Linked DNA regions of Homo sapiens: region 1 is linked to region 2. A link means that fine-mapping ties the variant in region 2 to the expression of a gene that starts in the linked region. Tissue or cell type: aorta. Region 2 holds a variant in brackets; the other region holds the start of a gene. All regions are shown on one strand. Distances are between the middles of the regions.

Evidence for each region. PIP is the estimated chance that this variant, and not a neighbour inherited with it, causes the effect.
Region 1: SDF4 starts here. The variant in region 2 is fine-mapped to the expression of SDF4 in aorta (GTEx, PIP 0.97).

The regions. Positions count from the first base shown.
Region 1 is chr1:1,230,725-1,233,224 of GRCh38, forward strand. SDF4 (stromal cell derived factor 4) reads right to left here and starts at 1,277. Exons shown (of 7, transcript NM_016176.6): 1 at 1,168-1,277. It overlaps B3GALT6 (beta-1,3-galactosyltransferase 6), which reads left to right and starts at 1,513. Exons shown (of 1, transcript NM_080605.4): 1 at 1,513-2,500. The coding sequence starts at 1,555. RefSeq lists a silencer at 755-1,614 and enhancers at 1,231-1,912, 1,913-2,500.
Region 2 is chr1:1,168,984-1,171,733 of GRCh38, forward strand. MIR200BHG (MIR200B, MIR200A and MIR429 host gene) reads left to right here. Exons shown (of 2, transcript XR_007065348.1): 2 at 1-1,355. It overlaps MIR429 (microRNA 429), which reads left to right and starts at 22; the gene lies at 22-104. RefSeq lists an enhancer at 1,823-2,390. The variant C/T (reference allele first, on the strand shown) is at 1,358.

The DNA.
Region 1 (2,500 bases), 62 kb after region 2:
CTGGGACTATAGGCGTGAGCCATGCACCCGGCCTGATTTTCTGAACATGGCTGAGGGCTTTTCCCTTCCCTAGTGGTGGCATAATTCTATTCCTGTCGTCCCAGATCGCCTGACCAGGGGAGAGTCCTGGATAAGAACCAAGACACCTCCTCCTGGTGCTGACTCCACTAACTACAGTCGTAAAACACACGCTGTGTGCAAAGAGACTGTACTTTGTTCCTAGAGAAAATAAAGCTAGTTCTTGATTCTACATATCTTGATGAGTTACACGGTTTACTTGAGGCAGGAGGATCGTGAGACCAGCCTGGGCAACACAGTGAGACTGCGTCTCTTTAAAAAACAAAAACAAAAAGATAAGACCCTGTCTCGAAAAAGGGGGAATAAAAAGTAACCCAAAAGTAACTATAAATATCAGGAGTCCATCAAGTGGCGCTTCCTCTCCTGGCTTCAGAGTATCTATTCATCACGGTGTGCCAGGTTCGCAGCACAGCGGAGCGGGCCGGTCCCACCGGAATGGGGTTTCGACTTCGCCATCCCCTAGCAGCTCAGTTCCCAGCAAGGAATCAACACACCCTTGCAAAACGGACGTGGGAAACAGCTTAGGCAGAGACGCTATTTCTTTGCCATCCCTGGGCTTCAGCTCTGGTGGAACGAGGCTATTTCTGGCAGTTAACAACACACACGGTTAGATTCTAAAAGCTCAACAGGGTTCATAACACCGCCTCTGAGCCAGACATCAAGGGCTCCACACAGCCGACTTCACATCTCCAAATCCTACTAACTGGGGATGAGGGTCCACGCGGTTCAGAAGCGGAAGCGCAGGCGCAGGGAAGCGGGGCAGCTTGTCCAAGGTCGCCTCGCCGATAAACGCGAGTCCAACCAGACCCCTTGGGCCTCCGTTTCCCGGTGGCATTCGTAGGTTTTGGCCAGTAGGAGACCAGACGTGCCGGCGGCCGGGGAGGCCAGCGTCGTCGGCCTGTCCCTGCCCCCGGGAACCCCGGGAGCCCCGGTGGCGGCGGAGTCTCGCCAGGGCTCAAGGCCGAGCGGACGGACGATGCCCCAGCCCAAGGCGGGAGGCGGCGGCGGCCTCCAGACCCGCCCTCGCCGTCCGGCCGGCGTACACTTGGCCCCGCGGCCTGCAGCGGCCGTCCCGGGCCCCTCACTCACCGGTCTGCCTCCCCGCGCTCGGGATCCGAGGACCGGAGCGAAGCGTCAGTGACGCCGCCAACGGGCCCGGATCAGGCCACTGCCATCTTTCTTGCGGGCGGGGGCGGTGCGAACGGGCGCGACCTCACGGAGGGGACGCCGGCGCCACCATCTCTCCTCCGGGCGGAAGCGGTCGCGGGGCCGCTCCGAGGTTGACCAATGACAAGGGTGCCCGAGGCCACGTGACGGCCGCCGATTGGCCGCCGGCCTCCGAGCGCCCCGGGGCTCGGCGTCTGCGGAAGGCCCCGGCGCGCTCCCAGGAGCGCCGTGCGCACGCGCACCGCCCCGAGCCGGCGGCGCCTGCGCACTCGCGAGTCCGGCCTGGGCCGCCGGCCCGGCGCGGGCGCCATGAAGCTGCTGCGGCGGGCGTGGCGGCGGCGGGCGGCGCTAGGCCTGGGCACGCTGGCGCTGTGCGGGGCGGCGCTGCTCTACCTGGCGCGCTGCGCGGCCGAGCCCGGGGACCCCAGGGCGATGTCGGGCCGCAGCCCGCCTCCCCCCGCGCCCGCGCGCGCCGCCGCCTTCCTGGCAGTGCTGGTGGCCAGCGCGCCCCGCGCCGCCGAGCGCCGCAGCGTGATCCGCAGCACGTGGCTTGCGCGGCGCGGGGCCCCGGGCGACGTGTGGGCGCGCTTTGCCGTGGGCACGGCCGGCCTGGGCGCCGAGGAGCGGCGCGCCCTGGAGCGGGAGCAGGCGCGGCACGGGGACCTGCTGCTGCTGCCCGCGCTGCGCGACGCCTACGAAAACCTCACGGCCAAGGTGCTGGCCATGCTGGCCTGGCTGGACGAGCACGTGGCCTTCGAGTTCGTGCTCAAGGCGGACGACGACTCCTTCGCGCGGCTGGACGCGCTGCTGGCCGAGCTGCGCGCCCGCGAGCCCGCGCGCCGCCGCCGCCTCTACTGGGGCTTCTTCTCGGGCCGCGGCCGCGTCAAGCCGGGGGGGCGCTGGCGCGAGGCCGCCTGGCAACTCTGCGACTACTACCTGCCCTACGCGCTGGGCGGCGGCTACGTGCTCTCGGCCGACCTGGTGCACTACCTGCGCCTCAGCCGCGACTACCTGCGCGCCTGGCACAGCGAGGACGTGTCTCTGGGCGCCTGGCTGGCGCCGGTGGACGTCCAGCGGGAGCACGACCCGCGCTTCGACACCGAATACCGGTCCCGCGGCTGCAGCAACCAGTACCTGGTGACGCACAAGCAGAGCCTGGAGGACATGCTGGAGAAGCACGCGACGCTGGCGCGCGAGGGCCGCCTGTGCAAGCGCGAGGTGCAGCTGCGCCTGTCCTACGTGTACGACTGGTCCG
Region 2 (2,750 bases):
CCCGGAGGCCACCCACACCACCGCCGGCCGATGGGCGTCTTACCAGACATGGTTAGACCTGGCCCTCTGTCTAATACTGTCTGGTAAAACCGTCCATCCGCTGCCTGATCACCGTTAGAGGAGAGAGCTGCCTGCCCTGCAGCTCATCAGTGCAAAGCCGCCCGGTCTGGGGCTCTCATGCCCCCCTCACTATGGCCTGTGCCCATCCGCAGCCCATCAGTGCAAAGCCGCCGGGGTCTGGGGCTCTTGTGCCCCACCCTCGCCATGGCCTGTGCCCACCCGGCCTCCTGGGGCCCTCGAGCTGTAGTCCCCGGGCAGATGCTGTGGACCCCGTGCTATCAGCCTGGCCCCTGGGGTCACAGTCACAGATACCCGGAGCCCCACCCCACAGCCCCAGCCCCCTCGCCACCTGGGGAGGCTGAGACAGAAGCAGCTGGGCCCCCCAAAGTGCCTGAGCCCAGGGCACGGAGGAGCACAAATGCCCAGCAGGGACAATGTCACAGCGTCTCAGCGGCCAGGCAGCAGGACGCAGAGACCTCTGGGAGGTTCCCGGGGCCAGCCCTGGCCCTCCTCCTCCAGGGGCCAGCCGTGGGATGCAGACCACACTCTCCCTCCAGGGCCCATCTCTGGGGCTGAGGCGGGCGGGGCCGGTGCCCAGCTGCAAGACCATGGGATAGGGAAGGCAGGTGCTTGGGGCCACGCAGCCCTGCACTGGGGGCCCCTCCACCCCAGGCGGCTCACGAGGTGTCATCTGGAGCTGTCCCCAAGCCGGGATCTGCAGGTTGACCTCCCCCACCCGGGGCTATCTCCAGACCCTCTTTCCTCCCTGGGGAGATGGGGCAGTCCCCCGCAGGGCCAGCTGAAACCACCCCCATGCTGCTGCCGCCTGAGCGACGTGTGTGGGGAAGAACTTGGAGTGCCACCCCCAGAATGTGGCGTCCACCTCACCAGACCGCACGGGTGAGCCCTGGACTGCAAGGTGCATATAACACAAGGTTTGGACACACCTGGAGAGCTCGGGCCAGGCAGGGCCACACCTGTGAGCCTGAGCTCATCCAACACCGCCCGGAGCTCGGGGACCTTCCCCATCCCAGCACCTCCTCACCGCTGTGCCCGTCTGGCCAGTCCCTCCAAGCACCCCTCGGATGAAGTTGCGCCCCACACTGCAGTGGGGCTCACTCTCCACAGCGCCTGCTGCGTTGCACGGGGTGTGACAGGAAGGACCCTGCTGGGGCTGGCGGGGCCGTACCCAGAGCCTCCCTGTGCGGTTTCTCCTCCTCCTCCTCCTCTCCATAAGCACCGGGAACAAAACAGAAAAAAGTCTTTGTATAGTAATAAAGTCTGCAGTTCACGCACC[C/T]ATGCTTGGACCAGCTCCTTATTTTAACCACACGTGCACAGACCCCCGCCGTGCAAAGGGCCCAGCTGAGGACAGAACCCCAGACACTGCATCCGGCCCCGGAGGCCCCCAAGGTTCCTGGGAGAGGCTCCCTCCCTCCCTTCCCTCCTCTTTCCCTCCCCCTCCTCCTTCCTCTCCTCCATCCCTCCTTCCCCCTCCTCCCTCCTCCTCCTCTCTCCGTCCCTCCCTCCCTCCTTCTTTTGCTCAGGAATCTTCCCTGACTCTCCTGTGGTCAGCTCAGGTCAAGGTTCTGGGGGAAGGGGGAGTCCCTGAGTGGAGACACCTCAGCCTGTGCTGAAGGGAGCTACCGAGGGGGCAGCCGGTGGCCCTGGGGGGCCTCTCTGAGCAGGTGACCAAGAGCGTATGGTGCCGGCCAGCAGGAGCGAGGGCTGCGGACAGGATGGAGGCAGCCAGGCGCCAGCCAGGAGGGCTTCCTGGTCCAGCCACACCTGCCCCGGTGACAGCCACAGGTTGGTGGCAAAGGGGCCACCTCCCTTCCAGTGGCAGGGCCTGGCCTGCCTGGAGACCCCACCCACTGCCCGAGAGGTGCCAGGCCTCCCCCATTCTGCCTGGCCCTGGGGGCTGCACCCACCTGGACACGCGGGCCGGGCACACCCACGGCCCAAGGTCCTGCTCCCACCTGCCCTGCGCAGGAACCTTGCTGGGGCTACAGGTATCCGTGGCTGCCACACCACCCAGATTTTGGGATTAAGGGGCAGAGTTTTCAAGTTTGAACTCAGGAAAGCTGTGAGGGACGAGGTAGTGCCTGGCTGGGGAGCCTGGGGGCTTCTGAGGGCGGTGGGGAGTCCTCAGGCCTGTGTGGGGCCCCAGGGAGGGGAGGCTGCAGGGGTTGGGGGACCTGCCCGCTGCACCCCCTCTCCCCCCACACAAGGAAACCCGTCCTCCGAGGTGTGTGTCCAGATCACATCCTCCAAAGGCCGGTGCGCCACAAAGATGAACACGGGGCTCTCCCTCCCAGCCCAGGGGCAAGGACCCTGCCTTGCTCTGTTCCCGGAAGGGCCAGTTCTGGAGAGGAGCTGGGCGAGTCCTTCCCATCCCCATCAGCTCCTGTCAGGCCACCTGCCTCAGCCTCAGGGAGGAGGGGACACACGTAGGCCCCTTCCCAGAGTCAGAGCTTCCGAACCCGGATCTGCTGCTCCCAGCCTGGAGAGCCACAGCAGCCACCGAAGGAACCCCCCACCCGTCACCCCCACCAAGTGGGCCCTGCTCCCCGAAGGCCCAGCCACTCAGCCCAGGACCTGCCCCAGCCCCACCTGCCACCTGACCTGAGGCTCCCAGAGGGCAGAGGGGCCTCCTGGGTCTGCTCCGCACCAGGGTCCAGCGGGACCATCTC